5 separate regions of the Homo sapiens genome follow, and regions 2, 3, 4 and 5 are each reported to be linked to region 1. The links are microRNA targets in miRTarBase. Many come from high-throughput screens and were not tested one by one. Region 1 holds a microRNA gene; each other region holds the end of a gene's coding sequence. Distances are between the middles of the regions.
The links. The annotated mature microRNA hsa-miR-580-3p reads UUGAGAAUGAUGAAUCAUUAGG and lies in region 1 at 2,795-2,816, opposite strand. An mRNA with a match to its seed (bases 2 to 7 or 8) in the 3' UTR can be bound and repressed. Matches are read on the target gene's strand: a 7mer-m8 pairs with bases 2 to 8, a 7mer-A1 pairs with bases 2 to 7 and ends in A, and an 8mer does both.

Region 2: the mRNA of DMRT2 is a reported target of hsa-miR-580-3p. Seed matches in the 3' UTR shown: 7mer-A1 at 3,136-3,142.
Region 3: the mRNA of IKBIP is a reported target of hsa-miR-580-3p. The part of its 3' UTR that is shown has no 7-base or 8-base seed match.
Region 4: miRTarBase lists ZNF131 as a target of hsa-miR-580-3p. Seed matches in the 3' UTR shown: 7mer-A1 at 886-892.
Region 5: the mRNA of DUSP16 is a reported target of hsa-miR-580-3p. Seed matches in the 3' UTR shown: 7mer-m8 at 2,717-2,723 and 8mer at 1,747-1,754.

What each region holds. Positions count from the first base shown.
Region 1 is chr5:36,145,113-36,149,264 of GRCh38, forward strand. MIR580 (microRNA 580) reads right to left here and starts at 2,876; the gene lies at 2,780-2,876. The region is part of intron 1 of LMBRD2 (LMBR1 domain containing 2); the gene reads right to left.
Region 2 is chr9:1,056,680-1,060,679 of GRCh38, reverse strand. DMRT2 (doublesex and mab-3 related transcription factor 2) reads right to left here. Exons shown (of 4, transcript NM_181872.6): 4 at 3,128-4,000. The coding sequence ends at 3,407. Among named protein-coding and RNA genes, the nearest start is that of DMRT2, 8.3 kb to the right of the region's middle.
Region 3 is chr12:98,622,153-98,626,152 of GRCh38, reverse strand. IKBIP (IKBKB interacting protein) reads left to right here. Exons shown (of 3, transcript NM_153687.4): 3 at 1-1,904. The coding sequence ends at 223. Among named protein-coding and RNA genes, the nearest start is that of IKBIP, 21 kb to the left of the region's middle.
Region 4 is chr5:43,174,866-43,178,865 of GRCh38, forward strand. ZNF131 (zinc finger protein 131) reads left to right here. Exons shown (of 7, transcript NM_001330707.2): 7 at 1-1,457. The coding sequence ends at 268. Among named protein-coding and RNA genes, the nearest start is that of NIM1K, 15 kb to the right of the region's middle.
Region 5 is chr12:12,473,123-12,477,122 of GRCh38, forward strand. It overlaps DUSP16 (dual specificity phosphatase 16), which reads right to left. Exons shown (of 7, transcript NM_030640.3): 7 at 160-4,000. The coding sequence ends at 3,711. Among named protein-coding and RNA genes, the nearest start is that of DUSP16, 88 kb to the right of the region's middle.

The sequences.
Region 1 (4,152 bases):
CCATACTATATTCCAGTTGTCTGATGTAGTTAGTACCTGGCATACAGTAGTATCAAGAAATATTTGTTGAAATAATAAAAAATACTGTGTAGTTTAGTACATACACTATTTTTCTATTACTGACGACTTCAAAGGCAATGTAAAACTCGTGTAATGGTAAACTGATTTAACAAATACTTATTACAACTCAAAAGGCTTAAAACTCTGAACATTACCAAATACTACTCAAATTTTCAAATTTCATATTCTATGAAACAACTTATACCACAACAAAGTCAAATCTTATGTTTTAAAAAATAGACAAGGTTTTGCCATGTTGCCTGGGCTGGTCTCGAACTCCTGAGCTCAAGTGATCCACCTGCCTCAGCTCCCAAAGTGCTGCAATTACAGGCATGCGCCACAGCGCCCAGCCAAATCTTATTTTTAAGCTAAGCATAGATTAAGTAGTTGGCTGAAAGCTCAATGCAGAATGTGCTGATAACAAAACCATCTTCGAGATCTAGGGTTTTTTTTCTTTAAAAAAACCCAATTGATGTGAGTTTAAATATAACATAATTAACTGAAAATCCTTTTATGACTTGAACTAGACCTGAAATTGTCCAGTGCAAGGAATATGACAATCATACAAAAAAAAGACTAAATATTAGAGATTACCAAAGAAATGCTAAATAAAGCATGGCAGAGCCAAATGATGAAATATTATTGTAGTATAAGAAATAATGTTTGTTAAGATTATTTAATAACATCAGAAAATTACCCTAACAGCAATTGAAAATTTGGCACATATTTTTACATAAGCATAAAAAAGAGTAAGGTAACAATGAAATATATTAAAACATCAATAGTCTTTAGGTGGTAAGATTATGGGCATAATAAGCAAACAACAAAATCAGTTATAAACCTGACACTAGCTATTAATTTTTTTACTATGGCACTCTGTTTTTCAGTCTGATTCATAGTCAGCACTTTAAAGGGTTGTAGATGAAGAAATAGAATTATGGATCCTTTATTCTAGTAATAAATGATTTGGTTACATACCTTCCCACACTTCATGTGTTAGTATCTTACCACTGCTGTAACAAATTACTACAAACTTAGTGACTTTAAACAACATCCATTTAGTATTAATATCTTATAGCTTCTGTAGGTCAGAAGTTCAAACATAGCATAGTTCAACTTAGTTCTCTGCTTAGGGTCACACAAGTTTAAAATCAAGGTGTCAGCAGGTTTGCATCTTTCTCTGAAGAAGAATCCATTTCTAATCTCATTCAGGCTACTGGCAGGGTCTCACACTGTCGCCCAGGCCGGAGGGCAGTGGCATGATCATGGCTCAACATAACCTTGAGCTCCTGGGCTCAACTGATCCTCCCACCTCAGCTTCCAGATAGCTAGGACTATAGGTGCACACCACCACGCCTGGCTAATTTTAAAAAAAAATTTTTTTTGTAGAGACAGGGTCTTGCTATGTTGCCCAGGCTGGACTCAAATACCTGGCTGCAAGTGATCCTCTCACCTTGGCCTCCCAAAGCACTGAGATTTCAGGCATGATCCACCTAGCCAAGCCAAAACTCAGTTCTTTATGGTTATAGGACTGAGATCCCTGTTCCCCTGCAAACTGACAGCTGGCATTTAACCTTAGCTCTAGAGGCCTCTCCCCAGTCTTTGCATGTGGCTCTGTATATGTTTTTAAATTGTATATATTTAAAGTGCACAACAGTGATGTTTTGATATACTGTACATATACAGTGAAATAATCACCATAGTCAAACAAATTAACATATCTATCTCCTCACTCACTTCTCTCTCTGCGTGTGTGTGTGTGTGTGTGAGTGTGTGTGTGTGTGTGTGTGTGTGTGTGTGTGTGTGTGTCTGTGGTCCTGAATATTTTAGAAGCAGCAATGGCTTGTCAAATTCTTCTCACACTTGAAATTTGTTTTACAGGGCTTATCTGATTACACTGGGCCTGCCTGAATAATTTCATCATTTTTACTGGTTCCAGAGATAAGAGCATAGACATTCTTAGGGGTTTATTATTCTGTTTACCATACCATCTATTTCTGTTGAGGCCGAACTATATTGCCTTATTATGACACAGATTAGGACCAGTGATCCCATGAAACTGGAGATAAAAATTGGGGTTTTCCTAACTTGAGAAAATAATAGTTTCAAAGTCCATATCTTTAACCTTGTGCCAACATTCAAGTGATGAGTTGCAAGGTTTAGGGAAGAAGGAGAAGAAAGGGGATGATAATGATGATAATGATGATGATGGTGATACTAAAATGGGGAGGTAAATAAAAATTCAGTTCCATGTGATTAAGCACCACAGTAGCAAAACTTGATTATACTCGAAATCAAAATGGCAATTCATTAAAACTACCAGATTTTAGTGCCCGATGTGTGGGCATATCGTACCCTTCAAAACACCAGTTCTGAAAGTCTTAAACATTTAAAATCCAATTCAATCTTTTTCCAATCATCAAAATATTATTCAATATTACTTTCAAATGCCTTTATAATGGTTTCACAATTAGCGTGTTAATGTTACTGACTAATGTTACTGACTAAAGTACTGTTTCCTGAGTACTTTACGGCTGATAATAGTTTTTCAGGCCAAATACCCTTTGATGGAACTTCAGAGGTTAAGATAATTTTGTAGTTTGAAGAATTCCAAATGTTTTGAGAGAGAGAGAGAGAGAATGGGTACCAAGTGATCAGAACACAAACAAAACACTGACAACAATTTTGTCAAAACCAAAGATTCTGAAACTGAATGAAAAATTTCTGACCGGAACCTAATGATTCATCATTCTCAAATACTGTTAACTTAAATATCTGAGTCTGATGAATCATTAGGTTCCAATTGGAAATTTTATCTAACTTCACATATCTGTATTTTTACTCAGATATGTGCAAAATAATAAAAACCAGGAGACAACTCAAAATCCTAATTATGAAAAATCAAAAGAACCAGAATTAGAAGTGAATGATTAAGTCAACAATTTTCCACCAATAATTAAATTTAAATCTTCCAAACATAATCGTTATTCACATATTTAAAGATTTCAGGTATGAGAGAGTTCAGTTTAGGACACAGACTACTGCAAGAGACTATTACTCCCACTCGAAAAATGAAAAAAAAAAAAAAACCATCATAATATTTTTTAAAGGTACCTAAGAGCTGAGTTGGCGAACCAACCAGGTAACCTGAATTCCAAAATGTGACAAGCCCCTGAGGACAGTGGCATACTGTCCTGCTTTACCTTTTGCAAGGCATGAAGAGAAGAGGTAGCAATCATGTAAGCATATAAGAAAAAAGAACTAAAATTTTACTGAATTCTTAAAGATTTCATACATAGAAATTGCAAGACATTTTGATAGAGAATAATCTGTAAAGTCCTTCCTAATAATAAAATAATTTCAAAAAACGAATAGCTAACATTTAGAATGTGTTCACTAAATTTTAAGCATTGTATTAATACTAGTACCTGCCAAGCTTTATCAAATTAGACCTCACAACCTAGTAAGAAAGGGCTGTTCGTTTCCTTGCTTAACAGAAAAAAAACAGTGCAGAGAGGTTAAGTAACTTGTCCAAGTTAACAGAGCTGGTGAATGGTAAAGCTGGGATTCAAATAGAGGCATCTTTACTACAGAGCCTGGATCATAATTACATGTCTCTTCTCTAATCTAGACATAGTTTCTTAATGCAATTTAAATTGCTTAATGATTTATTTTGTTCAGTCTTCACAGGGAACAAATTAGAAACTTTCTCCCATTTCTTTTAGATATATCAGGACAGAATGCTTAGTCATGTTTAATAAAGAATTTAACGCAAACTTTTTACATTACAGATTATACTACTATTACTTGATTTAAGGGTAATATATGACTGTACTCTACATGGGAAAAGTGGAAAACATAGAGTAAATTAGAATCCGTTTGTTCTTGCCCCAAGCTGCCTATCTTAGAGCATTAAATTACAATGAATTAAAGATCTACTTAGTTCCAAGCACCATTCATTCATTTAGCAAATATTTACTGAACGCCTACTATATGGTGAGCTCTGTTCAAGGGGCTGGAGATAGAAAAATCCAAGCAAAGTCCCTGCCCTTAAAAAGTCTAGTGGGAAGAAACAGGCAATTAAAAAAAATA
Region 2 (4,000 bases), not on the chromosome of region 1:
ATATTATGATGATTGCATTACAACTCAAAATCCACAGCAGATAATATTAAATGTGCGTTGAAATACCAGAAATGCTGCAAGCATTGTTACTCAAAGTGTGGCCTGAAGCCCAGCAGCATCGGGATTCTCAGGTGGTTCAATTGTCCATTAGTTTGAGAAGCACTGTTGTAAACTTTCGAGAACTGCAAATTCAGCTAACGATCATGCTTGATGGGTTGAGATGGAAGGATAACATGTCATTAGAGTTGTATTATTGTATTGTGAGTTAAATTGAGAAAAATGTCCACGTTTTACTATCCTTTACATTCTCGAAAACTATTAAAACTGTATCCATTTATTGCCTTCGATAGAGAAAATGCTTAAATCGAATCCCAAGTTTGATTTAATGTCAATGGCAGTGTTTTCTGAAGATTCTATATGACACGTTCATGGAAGTGAAATGATTTTCAAAAGCAAAGAGCCAAGCACAAAGCTCTTAACAAGTGGCTGACGGTAGATTTGGTAGTTTTTTTTGTTTGTTTGTTTGTTTGTTTTTTTGAGACGGAGTCTCGCTCTCTCGCCCAGGCTGGAGTGCAGAGGCGCGATCTCGGCTCCCTGCAAGCTCCGCCTCCCGGGTTCACGCCATTCTCCTGCCTCAGCCTCCCGAGTAGCTGAGACTACAGGCCCCCGCCACCGCGCCCGGCTAATTATTTGTATTTTTAGTAGAGACGGGGTTTCACCTTGTTAGCCAGGATGGTCTCGATCTCCTGACCTCGTGATCCGCTTGCCTCGGCCTCCCAAAGTGCTGGGATTACAGGCGTGAGCCACCGCGCCCGGCCTTTGGTAGTTTTAAAATTCAAAGAACTCATTACAGCAGAACTAATTCATAGTATAATAATAAGTTTGCCAGGGGAAGTAGTGACCCTCATAAATGTTCAAGAACAATAAAATTCTGGTCACTGGTAATGTGAGAAAAACCACTAATACCCACAGCCAACTGGATTCACATAATGGGATTAAAATGATACAGAGAGAGAGGACCGAAAAGAAGTCCCCATGTGTTCACTGAATACAAAAGAGAAACATCTTAACAAATATAAGTATTCAAAACACAAAAGTGGAGCAAGCAAGAGATAAAATTCATGTTTAGATGAGAAGACCTCTCACTGAGATTTTTTATGTGCTTTTATTCTAATACGTTCCCCCTCATTACCTTTGAAGCAGTTTAATTAAATGCTAAGGATACATTTAACACTTGAAACAAAAAAGTAAATTTCCAATAGAAAGACAAAAATTAGTGATTATAGACAAAGCAGAGACGACTGGGAGGGAAAACTGGAGTTAGATTCTGTCTCTGACATCAGGGCACACTTGGCTGGAAAACATTTTTCCGCTTAATGATAATCTTTAAAAGTTATTGGAATCTCTGCCTGTTTTCAAATCCTTTGCCTCTGGCAAACGTCCATTCACTCTGACTTTTGCAATAATACAAATAACTAAATTTGACTCAATAAAACCAAGTATTATTTTACAAGTACAAACTGAAAGTCAACCCAAGGTTTGGCTTGTTGTTTTTTGAAATTGATGCTAATTTTAAGCAACAATTCAGAGAATCCCAGGAGGTTTACATGAGGTCATTAGTAGCAAAATCATTTCTAAGTAATTCAAAGTGTTTTCACACTGCTGAATCACTTGGCATCTTCCACATACCCACCTCATGTTCTTGTTACCCAGAAGACAGTAGCAGAATTTGACGTAAAACCTCCCTCTGTGGCGGTATTAAAAGTGAGATACGTGACTCTTGATTTTTTGTATTAGAATGACTATGACACCTTAAACTTCACTTGGGGTCCACAGGTGAGGTCTTAAGAGATGAACTTAGTACTCTCATAAAAGTCTTACTCTTATTTTATCAATTATATGGAACAACAGCTAACATTTTACTGAGTAAAACAAGAGATTAACAAGAACTTAAAAATGGGAGAAATGGTGGGTGTGGTGGCTCATGCTTGTAATCCCAGCACTTTGGGAGGCCAAGGCACGAGGATCATTTGAGACCAGGTGTTCAAGACAAGCCTGGGAAGCATAGGGAGACCCTGTTTCTACCAAAATTTTTAAAAACTTACCTCTGCACATATTCCAAAAATAATAATAAATTTAGAAATTGGCCAAGCATGGTGGTGCATGCCTGTAGTCCAAGCTACTCAAGAGGCTGAGGTGGAGCCTGGGAGGTGGAGCCCCTTGAGTAGCTGGGACTACAGGCATGCACTTGAGCCTGGGGAGGTCGAGGCTACAGTGAGCCATGATCACACCACTGCACTCCAGCCTTGCCGACAGAGTGAGACCTTGTCTCAAAAAAAAGGGGGGGTGGGGGGAGAAAAGGTGTAAGAATTAAGAAGCCACCCTCATGCTGTGATAAACATCTGCAAGCTTCAGCAACTGTCAGCTGAAGCAATCTGAATACTAAACGTTTTTGTGTCAGAAGAGAGTTACACTGAAGGCCTTTGACAGTGGTGCAAATGTGGGAGGCATAAAGCTGATACTTGGGGACCGGATGAGAGTTGTGACTGGGCCTGCATCCAAATGCCTGCTGTCACCAGTGATTCAGAAACAGTGGACTCACACAAGAGCTGAGAGGAGGTTTGGGCCCCATCAGTACTGACCACATCTTAAAAGGAAACCTGATTTGTGGCTCCTAGCAACCTAAAATCATAGACTGTTCAAAGAAACTAGAAATGTTTCTAGAAAGGAAGCTTAGGGCCCCACATAAACATCCTCGCCAGGGAAAGAAACTGGGACCCAGGGAGTCAGAAGAAATCTATTCCAAGAACCCAAACCATCTAATGTAATGTAAAAGAGACATTACACTTGATTTCCCTTCCAATTAATTCAGCTTTGTCCAATCACGTGAAATGAAGATACTGTAAACATGCAAATGGCCCTATGTTCTCCTTAAAGTGATTTTTGCCTCAAACAGTCTCGAATAATTAAATTTATGTGCCCTCCACAATGCAAAACTAAAGTATTATAAAGGTTTTCCTGTGGCCCCCAGTGACCATTAAGAGTACTTCAAAATATACAAATATACAGAATCATAGAAAAATAGCTTCTTCATCTAGACAGAGACAGCTATTTGCTTCGGCAAATATTGGGTCTTTGAGAAGACAGTGTCAATTTTATTGCTTTTTGAAATGCTGTGTAAAGTGTGGTACTTAACAATTTGCACATTGGGCAATTTCCATCTGTAAGTTTAAATATATGTGATAAGAAAAAGTACATGCATATTAGGAATATATAAAATTTTTCAAAATCATCATCTTTACATTAGAAATTTCTTTACACAAACATCTTAACTTTTAAAAAAAGTAGCAAATGGCTATAATGCTCTAAGACTGCAGAAAATCCAGCTTTCTGTTTAAGCAGCCTTTCACTGAGAGACACGAGTGATGGCAGATGAAGGCCTCTTAAGAATAGACTCAACAGAAAATGACAGTGGTTCATTCACCGAGAGTTTTGTTCCAACTTGTTTGGCTACAAAAAGGTCTTTTGCACATCTATCTATTGTAAATGTGTACTTCTGGTTGTCCTTAACTAAACACTCTCTGTGTTTCTTAGGGGTCTCTTCAAAGGCCTCTTTGACAAATGGTGTTTTCAACTCAGGACCCGATTTGTCAGTAAGTGTTTGCTGGAATAATGAGTGGAATGGATTATGTCTAAGTGGCAGAGGGTGCCTGGTGTTTTCTTTGCTGATCTTCGTTAAGACATGCCCTTGAGCTGCCAGGGAGTCCGTGTCAACAATGGGAGAGAAATTCCGTCGGGGTGGGGAGAACGCGGACCTCTCTGGGACAGCCTGATGACCCTGAAGGTCACTTCTCGTGGTCTGGATCTCAGGAGTGTGAGGCAGCACCAGGGAACCTTCCAATTTCGATGGCATCATGTCCTGCTCTGCACTGAGTCCATCCTGGACTCGTGCTCCCTTCAAGTCCCAGCTGGCCCCAGGCTTCAGGGCTTGAACTGAGGT
Region 3 (4,000 bases), not on the chromosome of region 1:
GTTTAATATGGAAGATGATATGCTGAAAGCAGTGTCTGAAATAATGGAGATGCAGAAAACCCTTGAAGGAATTCAGTATGATAATAGCATATTAAAGATGCAAAATGAACTGGATATTCTAAAAGAAAAAGTTCATGATTTTATAGCATACTCAAGTACAGGAGAAAAGGGAACTTTAAAAGAATATAATATAGAAAATAAAGGAATTGGTGGTGATTTTTAAATTCATGACATTTATTCTGATGAACCATATCATTATACATAAATTGATTAGTCCATTGATTTTGAGTTACTTTGATACGCCTCATCTTATCCTACATTATTGGAAAATAAATGAGATGTCCACACAAATGGATTATCCACATAATCAAAGCTTATCTTTTTAAGCACTAAAACTTACTTCATTGTAACTATTTGAAATAGAAATAGTTCTTTAAAAATATTTCTCTACTTTTAAAACAAGATACTTAATATTTTTAATGTTTTTTAAAGCATTAATGAACATCATCATTAATTTCACCTATTATATTGTACCCACATATATTGATGTCTCCAGGGGCTAATAAAGAGTATTTACCACTTCACTAAATGACCCCAATTTGCCATTTTCAAACCTATGTCTCATACCTTTTCTGTCACCTGAACTTACTGTCAGGTTGGTTGGTAATGTGCCTGCCTCAGCCAGTTCACTTTCTTAGGTAATTCACTGCAGGTTAAGAATCCACACAACCAAGTTCATGGGAATTTTGTGTAAAATAAAAGATAACATGCCTGAGGGAGAGCCTGGTGCCTTTGCTATGAATTAATATGCACTTTCTGAAAACTCTAAAGCCTGGGAAACATTTTAGTTTTTGTTAAGGTTCTAAACTGTGTTACAGATACTTGTAAGACTTTTAAAATCAGAGTAAGTATGTTCTTACATAAGGCCTTTCTTAGGAATTATGTGTATATAAATCTTTGAAATATCTTTATATACCTGAGTTTTAGGTTCCAACTGTGTTAGACATGAGTTTGCTAGATCCATGGTCTCTAGATGGTTTACTTAAATAGGCCAGGCGCAGTGGCTCACACCTGTAATCCTAGCACTTTGGGAGGCCGAGGTGGGCAGATCACGAAGTCAGGAGATCAAGACCATCTGGCTAACAGGGTGAAACCCTGTCTCTACTAAAAAATACAAAAAATTAGCCAGGCGTGGTGGTGGGTGCCTGTAGTCCCAGCTACTCAGGAGGCTGAGGCAGGAGAATGGTGTGAACCCGGGAGGCAGAGCTTGCAGTGAGCCGAGATCGCGCCACTGCACTCCAGCCTGAGTGGCAAAGTGAGACTCTGTCTCAATAAATAAATAAATAAATAAAAATAAGCCTGTGGCCTGTTTTGAGGGAAAAGTAACATAACTCTGATAATTAATTATGATAATAACTATGATAGTTAAAAATACGTCATTTTAAAGATTTCCCAAACCACACCACTAAATTTGTTTTATGAATTGATTTTATTTTATTTGAAATTATATAATGTAGTCAACTGCAATATGGAAGTTTGTTCTTGTTTCTTTGTCAATAACCTTACCAGTTTTATAATGCAGTTTTTGATGGAATTAAACACAAAGAACTTGAAAGCAGTCAGTTACAAAAAGGTAGTTGTGGTCAAGTAGTTTTAATATGTAAATTTGCAAGTTTTTGGAGAACCCCCAAACTCCTTCTCCACTGGAGTTAGGAGGGCCTGTGGTAGACAGCGTGAATCATGAAAATAAGCCTGGAGAGTTCTGTTATTAAGGGGCATAGCATTAATTTTTGCAGTCTTAAAATTACACTTCTTGACTTCTGAATGTCTCTTATTTGCGTGCACTGACAAAATTCTATTTGTTTACTTTTATATTAATGGTAATAAAATAGATTATAAAGTAAGCTGGAACTTTGTTGTTTTAACCTCCATCCTGTCAAGGCAAATGTGATCTCTTATCTTATATCCTTTACGTTTAAATATTTTTTTCTCACCGATCACCACATTTAATATGAGGTTATTATGAACTTATATATACCATGGTAATGGTTACTGAAAGTAAATGGAAACAAGGTGGCTACTGTTCTCTATAATGACACAAGGGAAAGGAAGAAAACTGCACTTCTACAAGTATAACATGAGAAAACTATTAAAGTATATATGCGTTTGTATGTATGTATAGATATCTAGATAGATATATCCTGTATTTATGAAGAGGTTTTCCTATTAAGAAATTATTAGAGAGATTTAGATGTACTTAATTTGTCTTTCTCTCTTTCTTCCATTCATTTATTTAACACAGATGCTTAAAATTTCAAAAACTTTCCTGTGTATCAAATATTAAATTACATTGTTAGTCTTTTCTTTAGGGAAAATTACCAATATCCTAAAACACATTTTTGTATCTTTGTAACTGATAATAAATTTTATGTCAATTAATTTCTTATAAAGTGGCCAGGCACAGTGCCTCATACTTGTAATCCCAATACTTTGGGAGGCTGAGGCAGAGTGGCTTAAGCCCAGGAGTTTGAGACAGCCTGGGTAACATAGTGAGACCTCGTCCCTACAAAAAAAAAAAAAAAAAAAAAAAAAGTGTAAGGAGGAGTAAGGCCAGGCACAATGGCTCACTCCTATAATTCCAACACTCTGGGAAGCTGAGGTGGGAGGATCGCTTGAGCTCAGGAGTTCAAGACCAGCCTGGATAACATGGTGAGACCTCATGTCTACTAAAAGTCAAAAAAAAGCGCATCCCTGTAGTCCTAGCGACGCAGGAGGCTGAGCCCAGGTGTTCAAGGTTGCAGTGACCTGCACCATTGCATTCCCAGCCTGGGTGACAGAGCAAGACCCTGTCTCAAAAGCATAACAGTACTGGATCAGCTGGGCGCAGTGGCTCACCCCTGTAATCCCAGCACTTTGGGAGGCCGAGGTGGGCGGATCACCTGAGGTCAGGAGTTCAAGACCAGCCTGGCCAATATGGTGAAACCCCGTCTCTACTAAAAATACAAAATTAGCCGGGCATGGTAGCAGGCGCCTGTAATCCCAGCTACTCGGGAGGCTGAGGCAGGAGAATCACTTGAACCGGGAGGCAGAGGTTGCAGTGAGCCAAAATCACGCCATTGCACTACAGCCTGGCAACAGAGTGAGACTCCATCTCAAAAAAAAAAGTAAAAGTACTGGATCAATTTTTTTAATGTTAACAGGAATAAATCACTTTTACAATACAAGCACCTAATTATTTTTAAACTTTTGAATATATAATTTTTAAATGTAATATTGCCTTAAATTTTGCTTAATGATCAGAAACTATTGACTAATTATACTTGTATATTTTATAACCAAAAATCTTGATTTATTAGCCTGTGTGGCTTCATAGAAAAACCCATAAGATGCAAAATTAGTAGTATTATTTTTCTTCTCAACCTAATTGTAGACCTTTGTATGAATCTATAACATTGTTCAAATTTTGATATGATGCCATTACACAGTAATGATGCTGAAAATTTACCAAACTCAATAAGAAAAAAAAAAAAACATCCTTTGTAGACTTACCCCATATTTGCACAGTTGACAAAAGCTCTACAAATTTTCCTAGCACCTGCTCATTTCAATTTATAAGCTATTAATTAATTTTGGGACAGGGTCTCACTCTGTCACCCAGGCTGGAGTGTAGTGGCGTGAGCACTGCTCACCACAGTGTCAACTTCCTGGGCCCAAGGGATCCTCCCATCTCAGCTCCTCCGATTGCTGGGACTACAGGTGCACACCGCCATGCCAAGCTAATTTTATTTTTTTGTAGAAACAGTCTCATTATGTTGCCCAGGCTGGTCTCAAACTCCTGGGCTGAAGCAGTTCTCCCATCTGGTCTTCCCAAAGTGCTGGGATTAGAGGTGTAAGCCACCATACCCAGCCTATAAACTATTAATTTAATACAAATCAAAATACTCCACCCCAGCTTTACACAGCAGGAGAGGAGAGAACTAACACTTCAGCACCTGTTAAA
Region 4 (4,000 bases), 7.0 Mb from region 1:
TACTGAAGTACATGTAGAGGAGCTGCATGTTGAACGGGTCAATCAAATGCCAGTGGAAGTACAAACTGAACTTCTAGAAGCAGATTTGGACCACGTGACCCCAGAAATCATGAACCAAGAGGAGAGAGAGTCTAGCCAAGCAGATGCTGCTGAGGCTGCCAGGGAAGATCACGAAGATGCTGAGGATTTAGAGACCAAGCCAACAGTGGATTCTGAAGCAGAAAAGGCAGAGAATGAGGACAGAACAGCTCTGCCAGTTTTAGAATGAAATTACACATGAATATATTTTTAAATTTACTTGTTGGGTTTTTGAACTGATTATGGGCAGTTTGACTGTCCTTAATTAAGCCTAACAGACAAGTGGACCAAAGTTAAGCTGTTTCCTGTTGTGCTGAACTGTTGTCCGTTGAAACACATTGATTCCCCTCCCCCTACTTATTGCCACAGAGGAGGGATCTTTTCCATAACTGAAGGGGAGTTTTGAGAAGTATATTTCTGGAAACTTAAATGGATTATATTCTTATTATATAGTTGGGTACGAATGTATCTATTTTCATTGTGGTAAAAGTTCTTCCTTTTCTCTTTCCCAGGTCATGTTCTTCCTCAAATTTTTTCCATATTGTAAAATCAAACTTAAATCATTAGAATACAAGTTTATGTATTCTAATGCATGTTAGAAAATTGAATAATATAGGAAACACAAGGCTGCATGATGAAAAGTGCATTGTTACTGTGCAGTTAAATTTTGGCTTCTGGCTTTCTTTAGTTTGAACAAACGTTCTTGTCTACCCCAGTAGTCACAGATGCCATCTTTGCAACAGAAAGAGTGGTGGTGGCAAAATTTCTAGAATGTTAAAAAAAAAAAAAAATCCACACCCATGTGCCTTCTCAAAACCAACTGAACTTCTATAAAGCATCTCTGGTTCTTTCAAAGTTTGTGTTGTAAGGAGCAATGTAGATGATGCTATAATACTTTATATTTTTGGTTATAATGACAACCACCAGTTCTTTTTCACTTAAGTTAGGTTGAGAAATTTTATTTAATGGCCACTGAAGGGCCATTTTCAATTGGGAAAATTTATTTACATCTGTGGTAAACTTTATTTTGATGAAAAGTTGCACTAGTATTTTACCACCAGATGAGAAAAAGATGAGCAGCATTTAAAAATTAATGTATTTAAAATAAAGTACAGAGAAAGACATGTATATAATTATCAGGCTTTGTTTTGAATGGAATCTTTTCCCCCAATTCTTAATGTAAAGATCTTGTGCTATAACTTTTAAAGCCATACAAATAAGAGTGCTAAACTGTGGACTTAAAAGTAGGTGTGTAAATATTTTTAATCAGTATTACTTGGAAAATAAAATATAACAAACCCATAGACCAATATGCTATTTTTTTTACCTGTTAAATATTGGGAGTTCTTTACATTTTTTAAGTAAACTTTAAAATTATGTGTTCATGACTCTTTTTTAAAAAATTACCAGCGTGAAAGTTTATATCTGGGCAGAGATAGTTCCTCATGTGTCTTTACCCGTGTTAACATGACTGATGCATGAATTGTGATAAATTTTCCATCACACCTCCAACCCCCCAAAATCAGCTCAAAAGCATGGAAGTAGTTCATATTCTTTATGCTAATAGTTCTTACATGGTAGGCACAATAGCAGGAATTCTCCACTTAACTGTGTCAAATGTAAAAGACCAATGCGATTAGCCCCCTTTGGTAATCGTGACGTTAAATGGTATCACATTTACAAAAATACGCTGAAGAGAGTGGCTTCCCAGCATTGGAGAAGTCAGATTTAGATATAAATCTGGAGATAGAGCCAACCATTGTATTAAGGGGGCCACGTTTTTAAGATCAAAATAAGGGTATGAACACTTCCAAGTGTGTACTGTTTGGTAGTTGGGTATCTACTGCAAAGCTTATTTAACAGTATAGTTTTTATTTGAAATTGGAAAATACCAATAATATAATTAAATTATATCCCAGTGAATTTTCAGTTTGCCTTAGGATGCCAATGTTCCTGAGTTGTTTAAGAAAAAAAACCCTAACAGATAGTGGTCTCAAATATGTAAATTACTAGTTAGTATCTGGTGAATTTTGAATGCTGAAAATAGCGCATACTATGCCCTTAAGCTAAGGTATGAAACAAGGATTTTAAAACAAGAGTTCTGACCACAAGGTAAAGATCAAGGGCAAAGGTACATCAAAGTGTTAAAATTATTTGAGTTTTCACATTTGTCAAGACCTTTCGAGGTAGATTTGAGATGCAGATATAGTTCATTTTTCTTTTCCCAAAAGGTATAGAAGCTATCAGTGTACCCAGAATGCCAGTAAATTTGATTGCAAAAGTAGAGGAAAACTATCTACTGGTGATAAACTGTATGTTGAATAACATTTTGTAGTTGGAAAGCACTTTATGTAGAACATAAAACAGCTGTTAACAACTGATGTATATTTGCTTCAAGTACTGAAGCAAACTGGATATTTAGTCCTCCAGTGTTCTACTGTATTTGTACTGGAGTTTTAAGATAAGTCTACAGTATGAGGTACCAAGTTGGACAGTAGAGTGTGCAATGATGATCACATAGAAATAAGTCCCAAGTGCACTGAGAACGATGAGAGGCTTTTCTATCTCTACTCCGTTTCAACAGCAATTCTCAGACATCAATTGGGTGTCCAACAATTGAATCTGACACCACCCAGATTTAGAGCAAGTTAAGTGCTCAGTACCACAAAATTGCCCCCACTTCAGACACCAGCCACAAATGCGATCAACAGGCTACCCGCGCTTCTGCCCAGCCAACCGTAAATTTAGGGTTCTTATGGCCTTCCCATCCCCCCAAGTTCAATAATGCATTGAAACAACTCAGGAAAGCACTATACTTAACGACTACAGTAAGTATACAATTCAGGAACAGCCAAATGGAAGAGATGCATAGAGTAAGGTGGATGGAGGGGGTTGTGGAGGAGAATAGTAGAGGTTTCTCTGCCCTCACTTGGCATGCCACTTTCCCAGCATGTTGATGTGTTCAACTCAGAAGCTCCCTTACTGACATTTTATAACCTAGACTCATTAAATTATTGGCCTCCGGGCTCAATCTCCAGCCCCTCTTCTCCCTGGAGGTCTCGGGTGGGGGTAATAGTTGTAGCCCTTTAATACAACTGGTTCCTCTAGTGACCCGTGCCCATCTTGAAGCTATCTAGGGGCCCTCTGCCAGTAGTCATCTCATTAGCATAAACTGGTAAGATCAAAAGGGGCTTGTAATGAATAACAAAAGACATTCTGGAAATTACAAGGATTTTTGGAGCTGTGTGCAAGGAACCAGGGAGAAAAACCCAAATCCATTTTATTTGTTTTGTTTTTAGACAGTTTCACTCTTGTTGCCCAGGCTGGAGTGCAATGGCACGATCTCTGCTCACTGCAACCTCCACCTCCCAGGTTAAGGCGATTCTCATACCTCAGCCTCTCGAGTAGCTGGGATTACAGGCATGCGCCACCATGCCCGGCTAATTTTTTTTTTTTCAGTAGAGACGGGTTTTCACCATGTTGGTCAGGCTGGTCTCGATCTCTCGACTTCAGGTGATCCACCCACCTCAGCCTCCCAAAGTGCTGGGATTACAGGTATGAGCCACCGTGCTTGGCCTATTTTTTTTTTTTTTTTAATTACACCACACCTATCATTTGAGATTGAAAGAAAAACTAAACTGAATACATTAGCAATACATTTAAAAGCTAGACATCTTTTGGATATGTACAAAATCAGAAGGCTCTTGTAGTCTTACCAGTTTAAAAAGGCTACCTGGCTGGACACGGTGGCTCACGCCTGTAATCCCAACACTTTGGGAGGCCAAGGTGGACAGATCACCAGTTCAGGAGTTCGAGACCAGCCTGGGCCAACATGGTGAAACCCCCATCTCTACTAAAAATACAAGATGAACCAGGCATGGTGGCGGATGCCTGTAATCCCAGCTACTCAGGAGGCTGAGGC
Region 5 (4,000 bases), not on the chromosome of region 1:
ACCCACACCTGGCTAATTTTTGTATTTTTAGTAGAGAAGGGATTTCACCAGGTAGGCCCGGTTGGTCTCAAACTCCTGACCTCAGGTAATCCACCTGCCTTGGCCTCCCAAAGTGCTGGGATTACAAGCGTGAGCCACCGCCCCCAGCCTCCCCTCTTAGTTTAATTCCTGGTCTAATTGTAGTTGTCACATCCAAACCAGTCCTCCAACAATAGCCTGCTGAGGCTGGTCATGAAGGGGCTCCGAGCACTGTCAGCAACTGGCCTGAACTTCAGGCTCTCCCAAGATCTGCATCTTCTCATTGGAAGCCTCTCACTGAAACAACTGTTCCTCCTGTTACCCTCTATCTCTGGAGGCTGATTTATTCTAATTCCCTTTATTCCTCTATCTCACTTCCACCTCTTTTTCTGCAGGGTCCTGGCCAAGATAGCTCTTCTAGTCTAGCTCACCCGGCCCAATCTTTCTTATAAATTTTCTTAAATGTAACTTCAACTCAACCAACTTCAAGGTCACCTGTGATTCTTTCTGTAGTCAATATTCCATCTGTTTGCACTGAAGCTTTATTCCTTCAATGCCTAATTTTTATGAAACTGATGAGACTAAGTTTCTAGTCTCATAAGTCATCAAATCTAGTGTCATGAGCAGAGAGGTTGTTGAGATGTATGTGGCAAGGACAAAGGACAGCTCTTCAACAATTGCCCTTCCTGTTTTTCCTGTAGGAATCGTAACATCATTTACATGTTATATCGAAATGGGCCATGTGTGTGTAGCTGGCCTTTTTTTTCCTACCATGTACTTGTGTGTTCTGGAATCAGTCAGCTAGAAAATATTTACCAAGTGTCTTAGGCTTTTTCACTGTAGTGTGCATTTAACGTACACAGTAAAGAATGAAGGCTGGCACTAAACTGTTAGCTAATCATCCGGTGTTCCATGTGAATGACAGAACACGGAATAAACCTGATGACACCACCACTTTATTTTGAGCTAAATCCTCATTTAAGTGAGAACAGGACAGGTTTCACCACTGCCTCCTTTGGCAACTTGAGTGGTGGTGTTCCCACCGAGTTTATGGCTGCAAAGATAGGTCTTTTCTCGTATTTATGTATAAACAGGTACCAGTTTTGATTTTATTTAATCATTTCATACATTAACATACATGACACATCAAAATGAGAAATGCACAGTTTAACCGTTCAACAGCTGGCCTTACTTCAAAAGAACACTATATTCATATTAAACATTTACAGTCTTTCCATCTAACTTTACACATGTCCTAAATCATTTTCCAGCACTTCTCACATAGAAGTCTAGTTTTGCTCTTTAAAATCACCATCTGTATCACCCCTAGTAGACGCGAGGGTTTCCCCAATTACATGCTGAAGAGAGCCAGCCACCACCCCACCTAAAGACATCCAAGCAGCTCCAGAGCCTGCCTCCGAGGCCACCCCTTCGCCACGGCAGTCTCGATTCCAAGAACTGATTATCTGACACTAGTGAACCAGCACTAAAGGCTGTAGGATGTGACTACATCACAGTTCCAGAAGGAAGGGGGACCATGGCCAAGAGAAGCCCTAAATGACAGAAGCTCATTAAAACCAAGTCCCCCAAACCTCCTGAAACATCGTTAGCAAGGAGCTACTGCTTTCCTTTCTTAAACATGTTTTGGGCATGACCACACTCTGGAAGTGGTGAACTGTTACACATTTGGTGTGTGTGTACATAACATCAAAAACTACTGTGTGAAACTTGAGAATGTCTGATTAAAGATTTCAATGTATATCTAAAAACTAACTCAAATCGTTGACCAGCACTTTCCCAGTATCATAACAATGCGGCTGACCCTCTTCTGCCTTCACTTTACACCCCATCATAGCACATTATTTGTGCACAACTAGTGAGGTCTGTGCGGCTCATCATCCCCATAACCAAGTCGGTCTGTGTTGAGTCATATCATTCTGTGCTGGTTTTAGAAGTCACCATAGGAAACATGAAGTCACATCCTGGTCAAAAAACTGTCCATTTCTCAAAAACAGAGAAAAACCTGAGATACGAGGCAGCAACTAGCGACACTTACAGGAAGGGAAAGAACAATGACAACACCCGCCCAGCCCCACCCCCAAAAAGCTGCTGTTGTGAATTAAGGCTTCAAAAGAGGACCCACATTGTAGCTGATAAAACTCAAGCCAGGAGGATGTTTGAAAGCCAATCTGCACTATCACTTGTTCCAGTGACCTCCTATGTTCAGCTGCCAGGACCGATTCCATACAGTGATTGTAGGTTGAGGACTGAGGACGCCCCTTTGCTCTCGCTCCATTTTGATTTGCTTTTTCCACTGAAGACACGCCGGCCAGCGTTTCCAAAAACAGCTTGGCCATGGCTTTGCACTCTATTCACAACTGATCAAAACTCAATGGTCTTCTCAGCTTTCTCAACCGTTTTATTCTGAATATTCCTTCCTCACTAAAGCCTCTCTCAGCCCTACTAGTAAATGTGAAAGTCTGAGGCAATCATAGAAACATCAGCCCCATCGCATGCCGAGGGGATAAAAGCCACTAAGGAAACAGGTTTCCTGCTTCTCCTCAGCAATTTGTACCTTTCTTAATCTTCCCATAATTTACCTCCCTAGGAAGTTTCCTATAAAATTCTGCCATATTATTACATTTTACCAACTGTATCCATGCAGTGAAGCAGAAAGGGCAAAAACATCTGCTTTGGCTGAGAATTTGAAGGTGCTGCTGCTCTGCTACCAACCCAAATAAATTCACATTTGGCTTGAAACCAAGTTCATCTTTATTTAAAGGATTGACAATCCCATTTTAAACAATTCTTTGATTTACAAAGAGGGAGGTAGACTCGTTAGCCTCCCAACCTTAGCTTAAATCGTGATGTTGCCAGGTTCCTGGTGGTTCAGCTGAATCCTAGACAGTTTCCCTTCTCTTCATAAAGCTGAGAAGAAAAAAAAATTATCTCCATCTAGGCCCACGGGAATTTTGTGCATAGACAGTTTGAATTGGTCTGAAAAGTGTGACTAGCTACCTACCTATTCACAATGCCTAGAAAATGGGCTACCAGATATGGTAGTGGTCAAAGCCCCGACTTTCCTGTCTGAGGTACTGGGTTTGCTCTAAGGTAGACCTTGGCAAGGCCCCTAATGGTCCGTCCAGCAGAGTGATGCTCGTGTCCCTCGGCTGTCAGGTGAGCGTGGGTTTGTGAATCAGCTTTGGATAGGATCATTTCTCTTGGATTTACCACTAGGCTCTGTCCCTAACAGGGTCTACCTACCTGACCCCCAAGCTGGCTCAGTCTCAGCGCTAAGGTGTACTATGGAAGGGTCCGGACAAAGACTAATATTTGAGATCTCTTAGTAGCACAACGTGAAAATGGTAGGGGATTTTGTCCTCCAACACCAAAGACACTTGCTTTTTTAAGAACAAGAGGATGTGTAATTCACTGAATAAAATGGTTTTCCTCCGTCTAGGGGGGATTCTAGCATCTGCCCTTCCATTTTTGTTGAGAGAAGTATTAGCTGATCTCTCAAATGCAGATGTTAAGAGAGTAACAACTGGGTTGATCCACCTGTTGCTTTTACACCATAGCTCCATTTTCCAAAAATATATATGTATGTACATATATATATTTCAGATTTACAGGGAATTTTTTTGTGAACAAGAAAAAAAAATTGTCTATAGAAGTCACAAGTGTCTTTCTTCTCAGGAGACCTCAATGATTTCCATGCTGCCCGAAAAGCTAGACTGACTGCCCACTTTCCCCAGCTCTTCCCGTGACCTGTTCTCTGACATGATGCTCTCTCCAAATTCCATTTGGCAGCTTCTGCGTTTAAACTGCTTTTCAAAGGGGCTCTCTTCATGCCAGCTCCGCCGCGAGTCAGCTCTGTCACTTGGCTTCTGCCGCCTGCGCACAGAATAGACTTGGTCTCCGCAAGTGGGCAGCTGGCTGCAGCTGTAGGCAGAGTAACTGGCACTGCCTCCGTAGATGGCTG